3 linked regions of the Homo sapiens genome follow. The protein of the gene in region 2 interacts with the protein of the main gene of each other region in a pairwise test. Each region holds a gene or a part of one and is shown on either strand. Other genes may lie near its edges. The genes, in order: PAN3, TNRC6C and CNOT10.

What was found.
Region 1: the proteins of TNRC6C (region 2) and PAN3 interact in binary tests that used the Homo sapiens proteins (3 or more experiments, as listed by UniProt).
Region 3: the proteins of TNRC6C (region 2) and CNOT10 interact in binary tests that used the Homo sapiens proteins (3 or more experiments, as listed by UniProt).

What each region holds. Positions count from the first base shown.
Region 1 is NC_000013.11:28,141,451-28,148,560, reverse strand, and holds part of PAN3 (PAN2-PAN3 deadenylation complex subunit PAN3), read right to left. Parts: intron 1-7,110. UniProt on the Homo sapiens protein: Regulatory subunit of the poly(A)-nuclease (PAN) deadenylation complex, one of two cytoplasmic mRNA deadenylases involved in general and miRNA-mediated mRNA turnover.
Region 2 is NC_000017.11:78,087,684-78,094,793, reverse strand, and holds part of TNRC6C (trinucleotide repeat-containing gene 6C protein), read right to left. Parts: intron 3,355-7,110; coding exon 3,187-3,354; intron 1,862-3,186; coding exon 1,670-1,861; intron 1,175-1,669; coding exon 1,031-1,174; intron 1-1,030. UniProt on the Homo sapiens protein: Plays a role in RNA-mediated gene silencing by micro-RNAs (miRNAs). Required for miRNA-dependent translational repression of complementary mRNAs by argonaute family proteins.
Region 3 is NC_000003.12:32,758,187-32,765,296, forward strand, and holds part of CNOT10 (CCR4-NOT transcription complex subunit 10), read left to right. Parts: intron 1-1,271; coding exon 1,272-1,385; intron 1,386-4,546; coding exon 4,547-4,677; intron 4,678-6,268; coding exon 6,269-6,304; intron 6,305-6,495; coding exon 6,496-6,623; intron 6,624-6,863; exon of another isoform or gene 6,864-6,991; intron 6,992-7,110. UniProt on the Homo sapiens protein: Component of the CCR4-NOT complex which is one of the major cellular mRNA deadenylases and is linked to various cellular processes including bulk mRNA degradation, miRNA-mediated repression, translational repression during translational initiation and general transcription regulation.

The sequences.
Region 1 (7,110 bases), on a different chromosome or scaffold from region 2:
TTTTGCACTATTTAAATTTTTAACCTGTGCATGTATTACATTTCTAATTCCAAAAACAAGATATTGTTCTTATTTTTCTGACACTGGCATTTTTTTAAATATTAAAAATATATAACCAGGCATGGTGGTACATGCCTGTAGTCCCAGCTACTCAGTGGACTGAGGAGAGAGATTTGCTAGAGCCCAGGAGTTCAACGCTGCAGCGAGCTATGATTGTACCACAGTACTCCAGCCTGGGCAAATGAGCAAGACCCCATCTCTAAAAAATATATATATACAAACACACACGCTATAATTTAAAACTAGCTTTAGGCAGGGTGTGGTGGTCTTTAATTCCAACATTCTCGGAGGCCAAGACAGGAGGATCACTTGAGCCCAGGAGTTAGAGAACAGCCTGGGAAACACAGGGAGACCCCATCTCCACAAAAAATTCAAAAAGGAGCTGGACATGGTGGCTTATGCCTGTAGTCTCAGCTACTTGGGAGGCTGAGGCAGAAGAATCGCTTGAGCCCAGCAAGTCGAGACTGCAAAGAGCTGTGATCACACCACTGCACTCCAGCATGGGAAACAGAGCAAGACTTTGTCTCAAAAAGAAAAGAAAAAAAAATCAAACTAGCTTTAGAAAAATAGGAACAGTATCTTTATTTTTTACAGAAAAAGCAAGAGAGAGAATGCCAAAAGAGGTATCAGAAAAGACAAAGCTTTTTTCAGGGAAGAGGGCTATTACCTACATGCCAACTGACTCAGCCAGGATTAGTGAGATCTGCATACCCTTACTTAGACAATTCCCAACTGACTATGATGGTTTGACTTTATGATGATGTGAAAAATGATATGAGTTCAGTAGAAACCATATTTCAGATTTTGAGGTTTAATCTTTTCCCAGGTTAGTGATTCGTGGTATCATACTATGTCACAAAGTTGCACAATGGCAGCAGGCTACAGCTCCCAGTGAACCACTCAATTAGGAGGGTAAACAACTGATACAGTATACTGTGCTGTCAGGTAATTTTGCCCAACTGTAGCTAATGTAAGCATTCTGGGCCTATTTAAGGTAGGCTAGGCTAAGCTATGATGTTTGATGGGTTAGGTGAATTAAACGCATTTTCAACTTAACAATAGTTTCTACTTAACAAGGGTTTTATTGGGATGTAACTATTTTAAGTCAGTACTGTTATGTCAAAAATGCGTTTAATGCCTGAATAAACTCATCCTAAAGTCAAAAACTGGAAGTCGAATCATCGTAAATCTAGATATTCCTTAGACTTATGGATGGGGCTACATTCTGATAAATGAATTGTAAATTCAAAATGTGGGGACCATCTGCAAAGAAATGTATTTTCACACAGACCGAATGACTAGCCAAAGGCTAGTTTTATTTTGTAAGAAACCGCAATAAAATTAAAATTTCGGTCCAGTACTAATTACTAAGTACTGAAATGAGACACAAACATATATTGATTTGTTGGTAACAATGTTTTGGTCGATAACAAACCAAATGTATGACGGTGATCACATAAAACTGTAACACTATATTTTTACTGTACCTTTTCTATTTTTTTCTTTTCCTTTTTTTTTTGAGACGGAGTCTTGCTTTGTCACCAGGCTGGAATGCAGTGGCACGATCTCAGGTCGCTGCAACCCTGCAACCTCTGCCTCCCGGGTTCAAGCAATTCTCCTGCCTCAGCCTCCCTAGTAACTGGGACTACAGGTGTGCTCCACCACGCCCAGCTAAGTTTTTGTATTTTTAGGAGACAGGCTTTCTCCATGTTGGCCAGGATGGTCTGTATCTCTTGACCTCATGATCCGCCTGCCTTGGCCTCCCAAAGTATCAGGATTACAGGTGTGAGCCACTGCGCCTGGCCTGTTTAAATGTTTTAATACACAAATACTTACCTTTGTATACCACTGCCTAAAGTATTCAGTACAGTAACAGGCTGTACAAATTTGTGGCCTAGAAGCAACAGGTTATAGACCATATCACCTAGCATGCAGTAGGCTATACCATCTAGGTTTGGGTGCTCACATACCTAGATAATATAGCCAGGAGAGAGCCCTCACCAGGAACCCAACTCCTCATCTGGGACTTCCAACCTCTGAAAGTCTGAGAAAATACTTTTCTGTTATTTAAACCACCTAGCCACTCAAGTTCCTGGATCTATGGGGGGAGGAGGGGCAGGGGGAAGTTAACTACCCAGCCTATAATATTTTCTTTTGGCAACCCAAGCTAATATGAGAGAGAGAGAGAGAGAGAGAGAGACAGAGAAAGAGGAAAAAATATATATATTTAGGTATATATGGTATACATATATTTTAATATATATACTAGATATATGTCTATACCATACAATGTGTAGAAAAGATCTAAACACACAGACTATTAATAATGATTAACCCTGGACAATAAGATGAGGAGACTGATTTATTTTGACTTTATACACTTCTATTCCAATGTAAATTTTTACCAAAAAAGTGTACCTTTCATCATGTAAAAACTGAGGGCCAAGCATGGTGACTCACACCTGCAATCCCAGCACTTTGGGAGGCTGAGGCAGCCTTGAAGTTAGGGGTTCGAGACCAGCCTGGCCAACATGGTGAAACCCTCATCTCTACTAAAAATATAAAAATTAGCTGGGCGTGGTGGCGCAAGCCTGTAATCCTAGCTACTCAGGAGGCCGAGACATGAGAATTGAGAATCACTTGAACCTGGGAGGTGGAGGCTGCAGTGTGCCAAAATTGCGCCACTGCACTCCAGCCTGGGTGACAGAGGGAAACTGTCTCAAAAAAAAAAAAAAAAAAAAAATTAGCTTGGCACGGTGGCTTCCACCTGTCACCCCAGCTACTTCAGAGACCAAGGCAGGAGTATTGCTTGAGGCCAGAAGTTCAAGGCCAGCTCGTCTCCTTAAAAAAAAATTAAAAGTTAAAAACAAATTAGGCTAGGCACAGTGGGTCACGCCTATAATCCTAGCACTTTGGGAGGTCAAGGTGAGCAGATTGCTTGAGGTCAAGAGTTTGAGACCCGCCTGGCCAACATGGTGAAACCCTGTCTCTACTAAAAAGGCAAAGAAATTAGCCAGGCACGGTGGCATGTGCCTGTAAGTCCAGCTACTCATGAGTCTATGGCATGAGAATTGCTTGAACCCAGGAGGCGGAGGTTGCAGTTAGCAGAGATCACACCACTGCACTCCAGCATGGGTGATAGAGTGAGACTCTGTCTCAAAAAATTGTCAAAAAAAAGTCAAAAAATTGAAAGCCAAACCATTAAGTTAGGCACGATCTGTAATATGTACACACATACACACACACACGCAAGTGCAAATAAGACCGTGGAAATGTAAACAAGTAGACTACAGCAATCAATACTGGCCATGATACTGTACTACAGCTACAAAAGATGTTACTATCCTTTATAAAAGAAGAGTACATGAGATATCCGTATTGTATCTTACAATTTCGGGTGATTCTATAATTATCTCAAAATAAAAAGTTCATTTAAAATTGGGGGAAAAATTCCTCAAAATGGCATATAAAAGGATGATATTGGGCCAGGCGCGGTGGCTCACGCCTGTAGTCCCAGCGCTTTCGGAGGCTGAGGCAGGTGGATCACGAGGTCAGGAGTTCAAGACCAGCCTGGCCAAGATGGTGAAACCCCATCTCTACTAAAAATACGAGAATTAGCCAGTCGCGGTGGCAGGCTCCTGTAATCCCAGCTACTTGGGAGCTGAGGCAGGAGAACCGCTTGAACCTGGGCAGCAGAGGTTGCAGTGAGCCAAGATGGCGCCAGTGCACTCCATCCTGGGCTACAGAGTGAGGCTCTGAGGAAAAAAAAAAAAAAAAAAAAAGATGATGTTTTGGTTTGCTTTTGATAATCATTTATCTTCTTAAAGGGTCATTTCAAATGCACTTTCAGTCTATGATCATACCACTCTGAACACGCCCGATCTCATCAAATGCACTTTTACAGGAAAAAGTGCTTTATTTGTTAACTCAATCTCACCTGGAGTTACGTTATCCCTCGAGTTTTCCTCATAAAACTTATCGAAACCGGCCGGGCCCAGTGGCTCACGCCTGTAATCCCAGCACTTTGGGAGGCCGAGGCAGGTGGATCATGAGGTCAGGAGATTGAGACCATCCTGGCTAACACGGTGAAACCCCGTCTCTACTAAAAATACAAAAAAATTATCTGGGCGTGGTGGCGGGCGCCTGTAGTCCCAGCTACTCAGGAGGCTGAGGCAGGAATGGCGTGAACCCAGGAGGCGGAGCTCGCAGTGAGCCGAGACTGCGCCACTGCACTCCAGCCTGGGAGACAGAGCGAGACTCCATATCAAAAAAAAAAAAAAAAAAAAAAACAAAAAAACTTATCGAAACCAAGTATTACCTTATAGATATTTATAGCCCCACTAGAATGTAAACTCCATTAGGGCTGAATTATGTTTTTTTGTTGCTGTTGTTGTTCCTATCACCTTAATCAGAGCTTACCACCTTGGAAGCAGGATATTAAATGAGTGAAATGAACAGTATTATAAAGCCTTCATGATATACTAAGTATATTATTCCAATAAAAATGTTTAAACTTATGCCAGCTATCCTAACAGCAAATCGCCAGTACTCACTTCTCTGTCACTTAGTATAGGTTTGTGGGATGAAAAGGCTAGTCTTGGCTTAAACAAAAACAGCTTTGCCACACGCTACACATTACATATTCCAAAGCTAACATTTGAACTTCAAGTTATCCATGGCACTGCTCTCCTCCATTTGGACAATCACAATTCAATAATCTGTAGCTATTTTACTAGTCTTCAATGTATGCCCTCAAAAATTTGAAGAAGGAAATACAGAGGTTAACTATAGATTATTAATATTTAATAATAGCAATAACTAAGACTGAAACCTCAATATGTGCAGGCAATGCCATGCAATTTTCATAACATCTCCATTTTCCAGATGAGAAAAACTGAGGCTTAAAGGTTAAAAATTCGTTCAGTCACAAAGCTAGTCAAAGAGCCAGGATTCTATCTGAAACATGTCTTATTCACTAGTAACTACATTAGGAGAATTGAAAAGTGTATTTTGGTAAATTAAAACTACTGGGTTTCAAATAATGTACATAAAATACAAATATTGGCATATTTTACCTGTTAAAAATTGTACACTTTGAAGATTAAAGCCATTTTGAAAATCTAGCCAGTTGAAAATATTAGAATTACATCATTAAATGTCAAGAATCGATAATGCAGTTGAATACAAATCAAATCACTCTTAAGCCTTAGAAAAATCCCAAGACTAACAGAAATACGAAATGTTACGTAAGCTACATGGTACGGCATACCTGTAGTCCCAGCTACTCAGGAGGCTGAGGTGCTAGGATCACTTGAGCCCAGGAGTTGGAGTCCAACCTAGACAACACAGCAAGAACTCCCAACCCCCTCCTCAAAAAAAACAAAAACAAAAACAAAAACAAAAAATCAAATTGCAGTTTCCTTATAAGGTTGAAACATCATTGCAACTAAGTGTATTAAGAAAAAGCCTTTGTGCTTCAGTTTTCCAATGGCTGCAAAATAAAGATAAAGTTTTCTCATGCACCCACCTCCAAGGTTTTAACACTATCTGAAACACCAACAAAACAAAAACAATTCTGCAAATGTGAAGTGCTAAAGTTAGAGTCAAAACCTCAAATGCCTAGATATAAAAGTCATCCAGTTAGGGAATGAGTCAAAATGGAGAGAATTATGCTCTATCAACAGCTCTAATTCCAACACAGGTAAGAGACATCCTTAAAGGGAAACCAGAAATTTGTACTTCTATATTAAATCTTTTGTTTCTTTTGTTGTCAAATGATTCAATCAAAACCCACAAACATAGAAATTAAAAACACTAAATTATGGTATATATGGTGGCTCACAGGGTAGGCAGATCGCTTTGAGCCCAGAAGTTTGAGACCGGCCTGGGCAACATGGGGAAACCTCATCTCTACCAAAAATACAAAATAATTAGAGGTGCTTGGTAGCCAGTGCCTGTGGTCCCTGTCTCAAAAAAAAAAAAAAAAAAATTGCCATCTATTTTAACTGCCTCACACACATAATTAACCAATGAAGGCCAGATGTGGTAGCTCACACCTATAATCCCAGTACTTTGAGAAGTCAAGGCAGGAGATTGCTAGAGCCCAGGAGTTCGAAACCAGCCTGGACAACACAGCAAGACATCATCTCTTCAAAATAAAATAAACGGATCAATACTGTCTCAAAACACACTGAATGAGAATACAGTAAAAGGTAGAAAGCAGTCTAAAAAATGAACAATAAGTGTAAAAACTCAAAAAAGCCATACAATTACCAACACAACCTTTTTTCCTGATTCCTGAGCAACATTATTTCCCACTCCTTGGTATCTCTCAGTAATACCTAGGTTGTGATTCCTTATGAAGAAATCTCCATCCATAAGGAATTACTGAGAGATACCAAGAAGCCTATCACAGAAAAGAGGAGCCTTAGGCTTCAGCCAGACAAGCTAAAGCAAACACCACAGAATCTAAATACATAAATCAACTATTTAATCAGACAACTTTTACTAACAAGTGACAAAGTATTAATTTTAAAATACCTTTTCAGCATTAACTGCCTGTCCTCTCGAGTCCCTATATCTCAGTTATTTTCCTAAGATGTCCCACCTTTGAGCCACTGCTAATATTTTTTCCTCCACCTTAAGGGTACTTACCTTCCCCTCCCATCTTCATCTGCTTACATCCTGTCCTCTTTCAAGTCTCAGCCCTTCTACCTATTGTGTGTTAATTAGAAAATCCTCGGCCAGGTGCGGTGGCTCCCGCCAGTAATCCCTAGGAGGCCGAGGCAGGCGGATCACCTGAGATCAGGAGTTTGAGACCAGCCTGACCAACATGGAGAAACCCCGTGTCTACTAAAACTACAATATTAGCTGAGCGTGGTGGTGCCTGCCTGTAATCCCAGCTACTAGGGAGTCTGAGGCAGGAGAATCTCTTGAACCCGGGAGGCAGAGGTTGCGGTGAGCCGAGATCACTAGATTGCACTCCAGCCTCGTAAACAAGAGTGAAACTCCGTCTCAAAAAAAAAAAAAAAAAAAAAAGAAAAAAAGAAA
Region 2 (7,110 bases):
CAGCCAAACCACAGGCACATTTAGAAGCCTATCACTTTAAAGAACCACAGAAGCAGCCAGGCACACTGGCTCACGCCTGTAATCCCAGCACTTTGGGAGGCCAAAGCAGGCGGATCACTTGAGGTCAGGAGTTCGAGATCAGCCTGGCAAACATGGTGAAACCCCATCTCTACTAAAAATAGAAAAAATTAGCTGGGTGTGGTGGTGCACGCCTGTAGTCCCAGCTAATCGGGAGGCTGAGGCATGAGAATCACTTGAGCCTGCGAGGCGGAGGTTGCAGTGAGCCAAGATCACGCCACTATACTCCAGCCTGGGCAAGAGAGCGAGAATCTGTCTCAAAAAAAAAAAAAAAAGAAACAAAAGAAGCAAACACAAAACACATGGCTCCAATGAGTCATATTTCAAGTGGGAAATTCAATGTTTTGGGAACTATCTAGGTGGCCTTATTAGTGATAGTACCTATGGCAATCTAGCTCTTCCTTCCACAAAATAGCATGCTGTGATAAAACTTTATCAGAGATGGCACTTCTATGATAAGACATTACTTATCAATAAATCCAGCAGCATGGGCGACACCTGAGGTCAGGAGTTCGAGACCAGCCTGGCCAACATGGCAAAACCCTGTCTCTACTAAAAATACAAAAATTAGCTTGGTATGGTGGCACACATGCCTGTAATTCCAGCTACTTGGGAGGCTGAGGCAGGAGAGTCGCTTGAACCCAGAAGGTGGAGATTGCAGAGAGCTGAGATCATGCCACTGCACTCCATCCTGGGCGACAGAGTGAGACTTCATCGCAAAAAAAAAAAAAAAGTAATAATAATAAAAAATCCAGCAGAAACTCAAATTGATTTCCATTTCTCCATAAGCACTACCTGCTGTCTTTTCATGCTGCTTCAGGTGACTAGAAAAGGTGCCCGCCAACTGTGCCTTGTATCATCCCTGCCTCACAGCCCAACCTGTCACCCCTGACATCTCCAAATGGGTCTAGAGAGACCGTCCATGCAGAGGCAGGAAGAGCAGCACCCTCACCTCCACTCTTGAGGAGGTAGCGGTTGACATCCTGGATGGTGGTGTTGATGGTAGGCCCAGTGGGGACACTGCCAGGAGTGACGTCAGGGTCATTCTCAGGGTCAATATTCTGCAGTCCTTTCCATGGAACTCCCGGATGGAATTCTGTTTAAGAAACCAAAATGAGAAGCCACAGATCAGAACACCGGCACATTGATTCACGAAATTTTAAAAGATGTTTTGTCCTGTTTGTAGAAATTTTTATAATCTGCTAATTAAATTAGAGGTACACCTTATACTCTCTTTCATTAAAGCAATCAATCCTTTGGAACAAACTAGAACCAGGTATCACAGCTATCATATTAAGCTAGTTTTCACACAGGGTTGGAATAGTTTTACCGGATAGTGTGCAGTGTGCTTCCTCCCTGCCACCCCTTCCACTCCTCATGCTGAACTAAGGGTTTACAGAAAAATGCCTGATGCTAACCATACCCAAAATTGATCTGACAAATGGATTTCCAAGGAAAATGCCAAAGCTCTGGGCTTAACGCTTCCAGATCCTTAGCTCAGATTCTGGGTCCTCTCAGCCTAATCACTCTCTGCAGGCTTGGAGCACATTCTGACCTGCTGCTGTTGCACAGAAGTGTTGCATGGTCTTACCTGGGGGCCAGTTGATGCTAGAGCCATTTGAGATTTTATCACTGTCAGATTTGGCACGTGACCAGCTATGGGGAACAGCTACGGGAGGACTGGCTGGTGACTCACTGTTCTGGATTAAATCGTACCGGCCATAGGAGTCATCAATGGAGGACTTACCTGGAGGCCCAATGCTTAGACCTCCAGGGATAGCACCTATGGGGACAATAGGAAACAAAGAAGCGAGTGAATACTCTCCAGTTGAGAGACACCAGAAGATACCCTAAGCCTCCCTATGTACCTTCTGTTCTAGGTCCAATGCCTTGCCCTATTCAGTTACATGAATTGTAAGACTTGGTCTGTCTAGGATTCTGTAAGAATCAATGACTTTATTTATTTATTTATTTATTTTTTTGAGACAACTTCTCACTCTGTGGCCCAGGCTGGAGTGTAGTGATGTGATCAGGGCTCAACCTCCTGGGCTCAAGCGATCCTCCCACCTTGGCCTCCCAAGTAGCTGGAACTACAGGTGTGAGCCACCATGCCTGGCCAGTGACTGTTTCAGTTAGCTACAATTTCAGCCCTGAAAGATTGAAACCCTTGAAGAACAATTTCAGTTTGTCCAGTAAGAAGTCTTTACAAAATACATATCCATACCATGGGAAGCTGCCCTTAATAAATCTTTTTGGGGACAACTTATGAGTCTTTGTGATTAGCTATCAAATTTGCTGTTATCTCTTCCCTCCTTTTAGTCTGAAACCCTCACTACGGAAGAACACAGTGGATGTTAAAAATTCATACAGAACCAAACCAACCAGCTACAGGCAGCAGAGCCCTCCTGCTAAGAAAGGTGCCAGCAGTGTGTGATGATTTTCCGTAAGTTAACCATGAGACATAGTTTCCTTTTTCTTTTTAGAATGCTTCCTATCAAGAGAGAACTACGTAACCTACTGAATTTCCTTTGCTGTTTATTCTACCAGGAAGTTCAGAGTTAAATTTAATGCTTGAGAGTGAGATTACCTCCTATGGTTATCATTTTTGCTTCCACCTTACTCGTGTGTCCATCAGTAAAGAGTTCCCGATGGGGACACCAGTTTGGAGTAAGACAGACTGCTTGGATGGAGGGGAATAACCAACAGAAATGCACCCTAGTATTTACAGCTGCAGTTCCCATACATACTGTATATTTGATTTTCTATTTATGTTTTACCATTTTATTGAAAACATTTCAGCAGACTCAAGTTTTTGTTGATGAATATAGATACATAAAAAAAGTACACAGGCTATGACCTAGATTCTTTGCTGCTCTGGGGTTTTCAAATTATTTCTAAGTTTGTAGCTAAGATCTAATGGTTGGGTTTTAAGAAGTTTGATCAGTGACTAGCTGAGATCTTATATGCACTATAATGGAATGGGTTATTTTAAATCCAACTTTCAGTGCTCAATTCTTAGAAAAGTATAGAATGGCCATGCTATACAACAGGACGATCGATTAATAAGCCAGCAGTGATCCCACCACAGGCATCCTAGCTCAGACGTACCATGCTTGCTAGGGTTCTGCTCCAGGGGGGAAGCGGCACTGGGCAAGTTATCCATGGAGTTGGGGTGCGTCCACTGGGGGAGGCGTGACTGGGACTGGGATGGGTCCTTCACCGACAAGCCACCGGTCATGTCCATGCTGTTGACATTCATGTTTGGGTTCAGTCCAGCTAAAGAGAGAGATGCGGTTAGGATTCGCCTGCTCCTCTAAATGACTTCATTCTAAAGCTCTCCTATAGAAGCTATTTCAGTCTTCGCTTACAGCAAATTTTTTTTTTTTTTTGAGACGGAGTCTTGCTCTTGATGCCCAGGCTGGAGTGCAATGGCACAATCTTGGCTCATTGCAACCTCCGCCTCCCAGGTTCAAGCGATTCTCCTGCCTCAGCCTCCCAAGTAGCTGGGATACAGCAAAATATTTTAACTATAACTTTTAGTGCTGGTGAAAAAATACTACTTATCGTCATAACAACATGTATTTCTAGGAATATTATTCCTAAATTAAGGTGAAAATGTGAATAGTCTTTGATTAAGTAAGGCCCACAATTCTCTTCATTTTACTTGTTTCAGTGCTGAATAAACATGGTCCTGAGGCTTCTCAGAGTCCACAGGAAAATAGAAAAAGTCCAAACTATTAGGAAAATCTTTCTTTGTTTTGGGATATCTTACGGAAACTCATCAGGTCAAAAACACTTTTCCAGAACTCTAAAGTACCACCTATGAAACAGACTGATAGGATAATTCAGTTCTACCTTTAGTGAGTTTCCTTTACAAAAGTCTGCTCTGAAAGAGTCTGTGAATTAAGTATCAAACTACTTTTAAGGAACTGAACTATTTGACAGCGGGGGTGCTGCCATCTGCCCCCAGCTGGGATGGTGAGCTGAGGCTTCTGGGCTCATTCCTTATAGCTAAAAGCAGGTACCTGGTTATTTGTCCAGGACCTGCACTAAGCTAGGTTAATAAAGAAAGATGATGAGGAGGACAATGAAAAGAAGGTTGAAGTAAAGAGTTTCTGATGAGGACACTAGTTTGGAGCAGGACAGACTGCTTGTTTGGAAGGGAATAACCAGCACAAGCGCCCCCCTCCCCTTGTATTTCCAGCTGCAGTTCCCCTTACCACATACACATACCCCATAGGTCCTTACCGTAAGTACTACGCCACACGGTACGTAAGCACAGTGAGCCTCTACTACTTAGCCAGGTGCTGAACATTCTGGTTCTTACCTTTATTTCAGAGGCTGCAAATTCAAATGCCCATAGGAGCCAGGTGGGCCATGCACATGAAGAAGTGGGCTTCATGGGGACTGTGGCAAACCAGAGAGTGTCTGTCCTGTCTAAATAAACAGGTGCTACTGGGGCCAACCACCTATTGCTACCTGGAACATAGACCCACTATAGCCATTTTTAAGAGAAGCCAGAAGCCACTTTCCCCAATTTTTGAATGTTGGCATTAACACACACCTATGCACATGCACACACACACTTCGCAGACCTAACAAAACGCCTTTGCAAGCCCATCAGTGCCACAGGGCTGCCTACTTGCAATCTCTGCTGTGTGGGTTCTTTTCGTTTCAGCTTGTACAGATCTAGCCAGGTAAGGTGGCAACAATGTCAGGGCTTCAACCTGGCCTTCAGAATGCTCCAAATTTCACAATTTGGCGCCAACCCATCTCTCCCAACTTTCCCCTCTGGGAAAGTCAGCTAGACTGGCCTGGCCCTTGCAAAATGGGCCCCTGAAACAAGCCAGGCCTCTTTCTTCTGTGCTACGTGAGGCTTCCCCTTTATTTGGAAAGGCTTCCTCTTTATTTACTGTAATCCTATCCAATCATTTGAGGTTCAAGCTTAATCCTACTCTCTGATTTTTCTTTCACCACTCAAAGTGAAAGTGAACTTTTCCTTCTCTAGAGCCCTGTAAGAATCACATGACACTGGTATCAAGGTTATTTTTTCCCATTTATATGCCTGCTCTTCCTATCTAGATGGCGAACTCCAGGTGGCAAAAGACTGAGAATAACAACGACAGGCTGAACATGAGGGAAGGAAGGTAGCTAGGAGCCCCCACTACTGACCATGGGCTGCTGGTTTCTTTACATGAATTGATGAGTGTCTAACAGGCTCTTCAACATAGGTGCTGCTGCAGAGAAATGCTGAGAGCCAACAAGATAGGCAATTTTACAACCAAAGTTTCCTAGACTTTATTAGTTATTTGCTTTTAATACATTTATAACTTTACTGTGAATATTATAAAATATTATCCAAATTATTTTTCAACTAATTTCAAAGATTCACTGCATGAATTCTTTAACTTGTACTAAGAGAAAAAATCCTTAAGAGTAAAGATAAGTGGTCGGGCACGGTGGCTCACGCCTGTAATCCCAACACTTTGGGAGGCTTAGGTGAGCGGATCACTTGAGGTCAGGAGTTTGAGACCAGCCTGGCCAACATGGTGAAACCCAGTCTCTACTAAAAATACAAAAATTAGCCAGGCGTGGTGATGCATGCCTGTAATCCCATCAATTTGGGAGGCTGAGGCAGGAGAATTGCTTGAATCCAGAAGGTGGAGGTTGCAGTGAGCCGAGACTGCGCCATCGCACTCCAGCCTGGGCAACAGAGCAAGACTCTATCTCAAAAAAAAAAAAAAAAAAAAAAAAAAGTAACGATAAGTGTACTTTATCCTCCAAATATAGGTTAAGAAGACAGGTGAATAATAGAAAGCTGAAGCTAATGCATTTTAGGATAATAGGTGGGATGAAATTTGTTTCTAAAACAGAAGCACTTACATAAGTAGCTGACATTTTACAAAGTGTTTGCTATGTGCTAGGCACTATTTAAGAACTTTACATATTAGGCCAGGTGTGATGGCTCATGCCTGTAATCACAGCACTTTGGGAAGCTGAGACCAGCAGGATCACTTAAGGCCAGGAGTTTGAGGCTGCAATGAGCTATGATCACGCCACTGCACTCCAGCCAAAAAAAAAAAGAGAGAGAAAAAAAAAAGAAAAAAGAGAACTTTACATATTAGCTCATTTAATCTTTAAAACAAACCTAGGAGTTAAGTATTTCCACATTACAGATGAAGAAATTAAGGCATGGCTCAGTATGGTGTCTCAGGCCTGTAATCCTAACACTTAGGGAGGATCACTTGAGGCCAGGAGTTTTGAGACTTGCCTGGGCAACATAGAAAGACCCTGTCTCTACCAAAAAAAAAAGAAAGAAAAATAAAGAAATTGAAGCAAACAGCAGCTAGGCAAGTTGCCCAAGTTAGTAGTGAGCCTCTTGGTGGTGAGTTGGGACTCAAACCTAGGGAGTCTAATTCCTAAGTCAGGTCTTACCTACTTCGACACAAAGGGCTCTAATGGATGAGACAATAATTAAGGAACGAGATCATCTAGTCTAGTATTTATCAATCTCATATTAAAGATATACCACATTTATAATATGTCAAGTAAAAAGGATTCATATGATTACAATATACCGCTCTTTTCAGAGACATTGAATAGAATTAGATAAATGAATATTATCTGCTGGCAGCAAATTCACTACCACTCAACTGGCCTTTGCCCCTTTACAGATGTATTTTCCAAGTTACCGATAACCCTTTGTCCTGTATCTACAGACTCTAATAGCAATCAACAGACAAGCCTAAAGTGCTTTCACTAACTTCTGAATTCTTACGGCAAATTAGTCCATGCAGAATCAATTTACTAATTTATACCCTCTGGTGTCTTCAGGTATGTGAGCTGTGTCTCTCCTGACTGGCCTGACCTCGAGGCCTGGCACCATGTCTTCTACTGACCTGCGGGTTTCAAGTGCTGAGTGTGCTTCTACAAGTTAGATTTCAACATATATATGTTGATTTGGTCGATTATACAAATCACATTTCATACAAAATGAGTTGTATCAACAACCACTGCTTTTTAAGAAGTGCT
Region 3 (7,110 bases), on a different chromosome or scaffold from region 2:
GAGTCTCTGTTTCCACATCAGTTAAACAAGGAACCACACTAGACAGTCTTTCAGCCCTCCCATGGTAGTATAAGGCATAAACCTCAATTTCGTTATGCTTCTCAAGGACCACTCTACTTTTCTGTGTTGTTAAGAGTTGAGGGGCTGCCTTTCTAAGATTCTAGGAACCAAATTCTAGGGTAGTTTTCTAAGATTCTAGGAACCAAAAGTTAGCAAGTGAAGAGGAAACAGAATACTTTTGAATTTGCCCAGCTGTGCTTTTTATAGGAAGAGCCATTTCTAGTCAGAGGATTTCAGAACATTTCAAAACTCTGTGGTGATATACTGGTTACATTCTTCCTTAGACTAAAATTACAACCTGAATGCACTTAATGATACATATGTGTATTGTAATTTGTAAACATAACTCAAAACCCTGTATCTGAGTGAGGTCATTTGTGGTTAGCCATTCAGACTTCATTTCTATTTGACAAGGGTTTATTTTAAGATTGCTTTGTGGAGCAGTTGTTTAACATTCAAGTGATCTATTAGTATTAAGTCTTTAACCAGACTTGTTTTAAATGAGCTGTCTGTGAAGTAGAAAACCAAATATTATAGAAACTTAGATTTCCAATCCAACTTAGCGAAATCAATGTAACTTAAACGTTGTCTTCACATATGTTTGTTTAACCTGTTTTTTTTCCTTCAGTATTCCTTTAGAAGAATAGTAACTGTGTGAATAAAACTTTTTAGTTACTCTTGATACTATGGTTTAGCAAGAACTGTAGACTTAATTGGTTGAGAAAAGAACATTTAAAGTAAATGAATGCTTTAGTAAGTTAATTATTTCTTAGCATATCACAAATATATGTAGAAAGAATAAGATCTCATTCTATAGCTTTATTCCTAGGTTATTAAAAGCAAACTTCTATGGAAGTTAGTTCTCATTAGGCTATATATATATAGTGTGTGTGTGTGTGTGTGTGTGTATTTATCTATACATATATACATACATACATACATACAGGCTATGTATTGTAATCCATTGGTTATTTTGTTGGGGATGTGGGTCAATTGGATGAAAGCTAAAGATGACTTATGTAAATAGCCAAACTGTGTTTCAGAATTGTTTTATACATCAATCTAATTCTTACCATTAGTACCGTGGCTTCCTCTCCTCTTTCCTGGTGTCCAGATTGTCACAGCTAAAGGGCATTTCTTCCTATTTAGCAAATATAACCATTATCAATGTTTAAAATGAGATTTTCGGCCCCTTCCCTTTTGTGTTATAGGTGCTCCATACTTGCTTGCAGTGCCTACGTGGCTCTGGCTTTGGGTGATAACCTCATGGCTTTGAATCATGCAGATAAACTTCTTCAGCAGCCCAAGCTGTCAGGATCTCTTAAGTAAGTGTGACTTGCCCTGTGTGTCCCTGGTTTCTTTAGTTTTGAGGTTTCTCCTTGGTTTGTGGTTTATGTTGCTTCTTTTGACTCCTCCAGTGGAATATATATTTGTAAGGAAAGCAACTGTTTAAAAGAACGTTTTTTAACCCATGCCTCGGCAGTGAAAATGTTTTCACTTGTGCTGTACTGAGCGTTAGGAGACAAAAACTTCGGACTCTAGTGTCCACTTCTAGGCTTCACTGCAGCACTTTAATTCTCCAAATAAGTCAAGTCCTCAGAGAGAAGACCTACAAAAAAAGGAGTGTGGTCAATGTGATAAATCTACTTTGAGGGACCAGGCACGGTGGCTCACGCCTGTAATCCCAGCACTTTGGGAGGCCGAGGCAGGCAAATCACGAGGTCAGGAGTTCAAGACCAGCCTGGCCAACATGGTGAAACCCTGCCTCTACTAAAAATACAAAAAATTAGCTGGGCGTAGTGGCGGGCACCTGTAATCCCAGCTACTCAGGAGGCTGAGGCAGGAGAATCGCTTGAACCCAGGAGTCAGAGGTTGCAGTGAGATCTCTGCACCACTGCACTCCAGTCTAGGCTACAGAGCAAGACTCTGTCTCAAAAAAAAAAAAAATAGACAAGAATTTGAAAAATCTTTCCAAGCTACTGTATCATTCCAGAATCAGCTAGTTTTAGTCAAACTGCAAATACTTCTTCATTAATATCATTGTCATTCTAAAATTTTCCAAAGCACATTATCTTTTCTTTTACCAAAATTGAGTAAAATACAGGCCAGGTGTGGTGGCTCATGCCTGTAATCCCAGCACTTTGGGAGGCTGAGGTAGGCAGATCATTTGAGGTCGGGAGTCTGAGACCAGCCCAGCCAACGTGGTAAAACCCCATCTCTACTAAAAATACAAAAATTAGCCAGGCATGGTGGCAGGCATCCATAATTCCAGCTACTCGGGAAGTTGAAACAGGAGAATCACTTGAGCCTGGGGGGCGGACGTTGCGGTGAGCCACGGTTGCACCATTGCACTCCAGGCGGAGTGACACAGCAAGACTCCCTCTCAAAAAATAAAAATAAAATACAGCTTGAATTTTTGTATGGTGCTGATCCTGGAAATTTTATCAAAAGCCACGAGTATTCTGCACAACATTAGAACAGTTCTTTCATTCATCGTATAGGTGTATACTTACAAATGCCAAAATATAACTACTTACTCTTTGGCTTTTTAGTGATCCCCAAACATACCTAGTGTTTTTGTTTTTTTTTTAAGTAATTAAGGCCAGGCGCTGTGGCTCACACCTGTAATCCCAGCACTTTGGGAGGCCTACCTGGGCAAATCATTTGAGGTCAGGAGTTGGAGACCAGCCCTGCCAATATGGTGAAACCCCATCTCTACTGAAAATATGAAAATTAGCCGGGCATGGGGGCACACTCCTGTAATCCCAGCTACTCGGGAGGCTGAGGCACGAGAATTGCTTGAGCCTGGGAGGCAGAAGCTGCAGTGAGCCAAGATTGTACCACTGCATTCCAAACTGGGTGACAGAGTGAGACTCCATCTCAAAAAAAAGTAATAAATCATTCAACTATATAAGAGACTTTGTCACAATTCAAATATAAGGGAGCTCCTGCTCTTCTGCAAGAAAATCTTGTCCAATATTCAGGCCTGGAGATGGGGAAGATCCTAATTTTCAGTTCAAGGCATTTGGGTTGCCTCTAAAGTACCTTCCGTCCTTATCATTGCCCAACTCAAAATGCCAATGTTGGGAATTGCAGCTGATGCTGGTGTTCAGATTGTGGTGTATACGGCCATTATGAGAGAACTGGACTTTGTGTGTTTGTGTGTGACTGAGTCTGTCTGGGTCACCCACACTAGAGTGCAGTAGCACAATCTCAACTCACTGCAACCTCCACTGTCTGGGTTCAGGCGATTCTCCTGCCTCAGCCTCCCGAGTAGCTGGGATTACAGGAGCCCACCACCACACCCGGCTAATTTTTTTTCTTTTTCTGAGACAGTTTCACTCTGTTGCCCAGGCTGGAGTGCAGTGGCATGATCTCAGCTCACTGCAACCTCTGCCTCCCCAGTTCAAGGGATTCTCCTGCCTCAGCCTCCTGCGTAGCTGGGATTACAGGTGCACGCCACTATGCCCTACTAATTTCTTTTTTTTTTTTTTTTCTTTTTTTGAAACGGAGTTTCACAGGCATGAGCCACCGCACCTGGCTACTTTTTGTATTTGCTCTTATTGCCCAGGCTGGAGTGCAATGGCGTGATCTCGGCTCATCACAGCTTCCATCTCCCGGGTTCAAGCGATTCTCCTGCCTCAGCCTCCCAAGTAGCTGGGATTACAGGCATGCACCACCACGCCCGGCTAATTTTGTATTTTTAGTAGAGATGGGGTTTCTCCATGTTGGTCAGGCTGGTCTCGAACTCCCGACCTCAGGTGATCTGCCATCTTGGCCTCCCAAAGTGCTGGGATTACAGGCATGAGCCACCATGCTCAACCTGGAGAGTTTTAAAACTATAAAAGTTTAGTTTGTGGTGGTGTTGTTCTTGTGTAGAAAGTCATTAAGATTTTGAGCAGATCAAAAGGTCCCCAGTTAAAAAAAAAAAAAAAAGCTGGGCATGGTGGCTCACGCCTGTAATACCAACACTTTGGGAGGCCAAGACGGGCGGATCACGAGATCAGGAGATCGATCTTAATTTTTATTTTTATTTTTTTTGAGATGGCGTCTCACTCTGTCATTCAGGCTGAGGTGCAGTGGCATGATCACTGCTCACTGCAGCCTCAGTCTCCCATGCTTAAGTGATTCTCCCACCTCAGCCTCCTGAGTAGCTGAGACTACAGGTGTATGCCACCACGCCCAGCTAATTTTTGTATTTTTTTTGTAGAGACAGGGTTTTGCCATGTTGCCCACGCTGTTCTCAAACTCCTGGACTCAGCAGTCCACCCACCTAGGCTTCTTGAAGTGTTGAGATTAAAGGCATGAGCCACTACACCCAGGCAGTTGATTCGTTTTACCTAAATAAATTTAGATTTCAATTTAAGGACATGAAATATGAGACCTATATCCAATGTATAATAACATAATATACCCAGCATTATTTTACATTGGGTATTTTTGTGACGTTGTACTTTTCAGTTTGGAATCTGTTTTTTCATTTTAGGTTTTTGGGACATTTATATGCTGCAGAAGCCCTCATCTCTCTCGACAGAATATCTGATGCCATTACTCACTTGAACCCGGAGAATGTCACTGATGTCTCCTTAGGGATCTCTTCAAATGAGCAGGACCAAGGTTAATGAGGACATCTTTGATCAGAACTGGTCACTGTTTCCATTTCCCTCCTGTCATAATTCAGGATGTGTGGAAATTTAGGCATGGTGGTAATGAGAAGAAAGTTTTAGGTTGGCTTTCCACATTTTTGTCTGTACTTACTTTGTAGCAGTTGTTTGCTAAGTAGACCTGAGAGTTAATGATCACATCATCTAAATTCTCACTTTTGAAAGGCTGGTACTGTTAGAATGGTTAATTTTGGTTCTGATACTATTTATTTGTTTTCCTTTGGAGTGATTCTAAAATCCATAGGGGAGTAAAAATATTGCATTCAAGAGTCAGTTTTAGTCCAGGCGTGGTGGCTCACGCCTGTAATCCCAGCACTTTGGGAGGCTGTAGCAGGAGGGTCACTTGAGCCCAAGAGTTCAAGACCAGCCTGGGCAACCTGGTGAGACCCTGTCTCTATTTTAAAAATAAGGAAAGAAAAAAAAGTTTGTTTTAAGTCATTGCTAAATTTCTAAATAATTGTCGGGTGCGGTGGCTCACACCTGTAATCCCAACACTTTGGGAGGCCGAGGCAGGTGGATCACCTGAGGTCAGGAGTTCAAGACCAGCCTGGCCAACATAGTGAAACCCCGTCTCTACCAAAAATACAAAATTAGTAGGGCGTGGTGGTGCAAGCCTGTAATCTCACCTACTCAGGAGGCTGAGACAGGAGAATCGCTTGCACCTGAGAGGTGGAGGTTGCAGTGAGCCAAGATCACGCCACTGCACTCCAGCCTGGGTGACAGAGCAAGACTCTGTCTGAAGAAAAAAAAAAAATTAAATAATTAAAGCTATGTGACATTCATTTTACTCAAGACTAGTGCTCAGGTTTGAGATGGTGGTGGGTGGTAGCATTCTGGCATTTTTTAATGGAATCTCCACTACATGAAAAGTAAATAAATTGCTTTATATTAAATTTCCATTTCATAAAGAAAGTTAGGTTTTTAGAAAATATGCTCTCAGCTGGCCACAGTGGCTCACACCTGTAATCCCAGCACTTTGGGAGGCTGTGGTGGGTGGATCACCTAAGGTCAGGAGTTCAAGACCAGCCTGACCAACATGGTGAAACCCTGTCTCTACTAAAAATACAAAATTAGCCAGGCATGGTGGTATGCCCCTGTAATCCCAGCTACTCAGGAGGCTGAGGCCAGAGAATCACTTGAACTCAAGAGGCGGAGGTTGCAGTGAGTCGTGCCATTGCACTCCAGCCTGGGCGGCAACAAGAGCAAAACTCCATCTCCAAAAAAAAAACCAGCCTGACCAACATGGTGAAACCCCGTCTCTACTAAAAATACAAAAACTAGCCAGGGATGGTGGCACATGCCTGTAATCCCAGCTACTCAGGAGGCTGAGGCAGGAGAATCGCTTGAATCCAGGAGGCGGAGGTTGCAGTGAGCCGAGATCATGCCCCTGCACTCCAGCCTGGGCAACAGAGCGAGGCTCCATCTCAAAAAAAAAAAAAAGAAAAGAAAAGAAAATATGCCCTCTACCTTCTGAGCCCGAGGAGAAAAGAAAGAAAATATGCTCTGTTGTTCTGCCCCTCAGATTTATTTTCGTGTTTTTGTAGGATCAGACAAAGGTGAAAATGAAGCAATGGAATCCTGTAAGTAAGAAGTTTTGTGATACTTAAGTAGCCTGGCCTGCATCCCAAAAATTTAGATTCTAAATCTTCTGTGTTCGTTTTTCTGCCTGAGGAATACTGCTGTGCCAAGTGGCTCCTCAAGGCGATAGATTGGGTTGCTTCCTTGCTGTTGGCACGGCCTCTTCACCAGTGTCTACACTCTTTTTCCCCAGCTGGTAAGCGGGCCCCTCAGTGCTACCCCAGTTCCGTCAACTCTGCCAGGACTGTGATGCTGTTCAACCTTGGCAGCGCTTACTGCCTGAGGAGCGAATATGACAAAGCCCGAAAGTGTCTCCACCAGGTGAGTCCAGAGTGGGAGGAACTGAACCTTGTAAAGCAGCCAACACAAGTTTGAGGTTTATATTTTTTGTTACTTTGTTTGAAGCATCTGATCAGTTTGTTAAATATTGGAATATCACTTTCCCAGATATAAAAATATTCTTGCAAGGTAAACAACTAATCAGCATTGTAAATGAACCTAGACACTTAAAGGAAAGTTCTTCTTGATGATTTTATTTTAAAAAAAATTTTTTTTTGCCAGGCACAGTGGCTCATGCCTCCCAGCACTTTGGGAGGCCGAGGCAGGCGGATCATGAGGTCAGGAGTTTGAGACCAGCCTGGCCAATATGGTGAAACCCCATCTCTACTAAAAATACAAAAATTAGCCAGGTTGGTGGCACGCACCTGTAGTCCCAGCTACTCGGGAGGCTGAAGCAGGAGAATCGCTTGAATCCGGGAGGCGGAGGTTGCAGTGAGCCAAGATTGTGCCACTGTACTCCAGCCTGGGC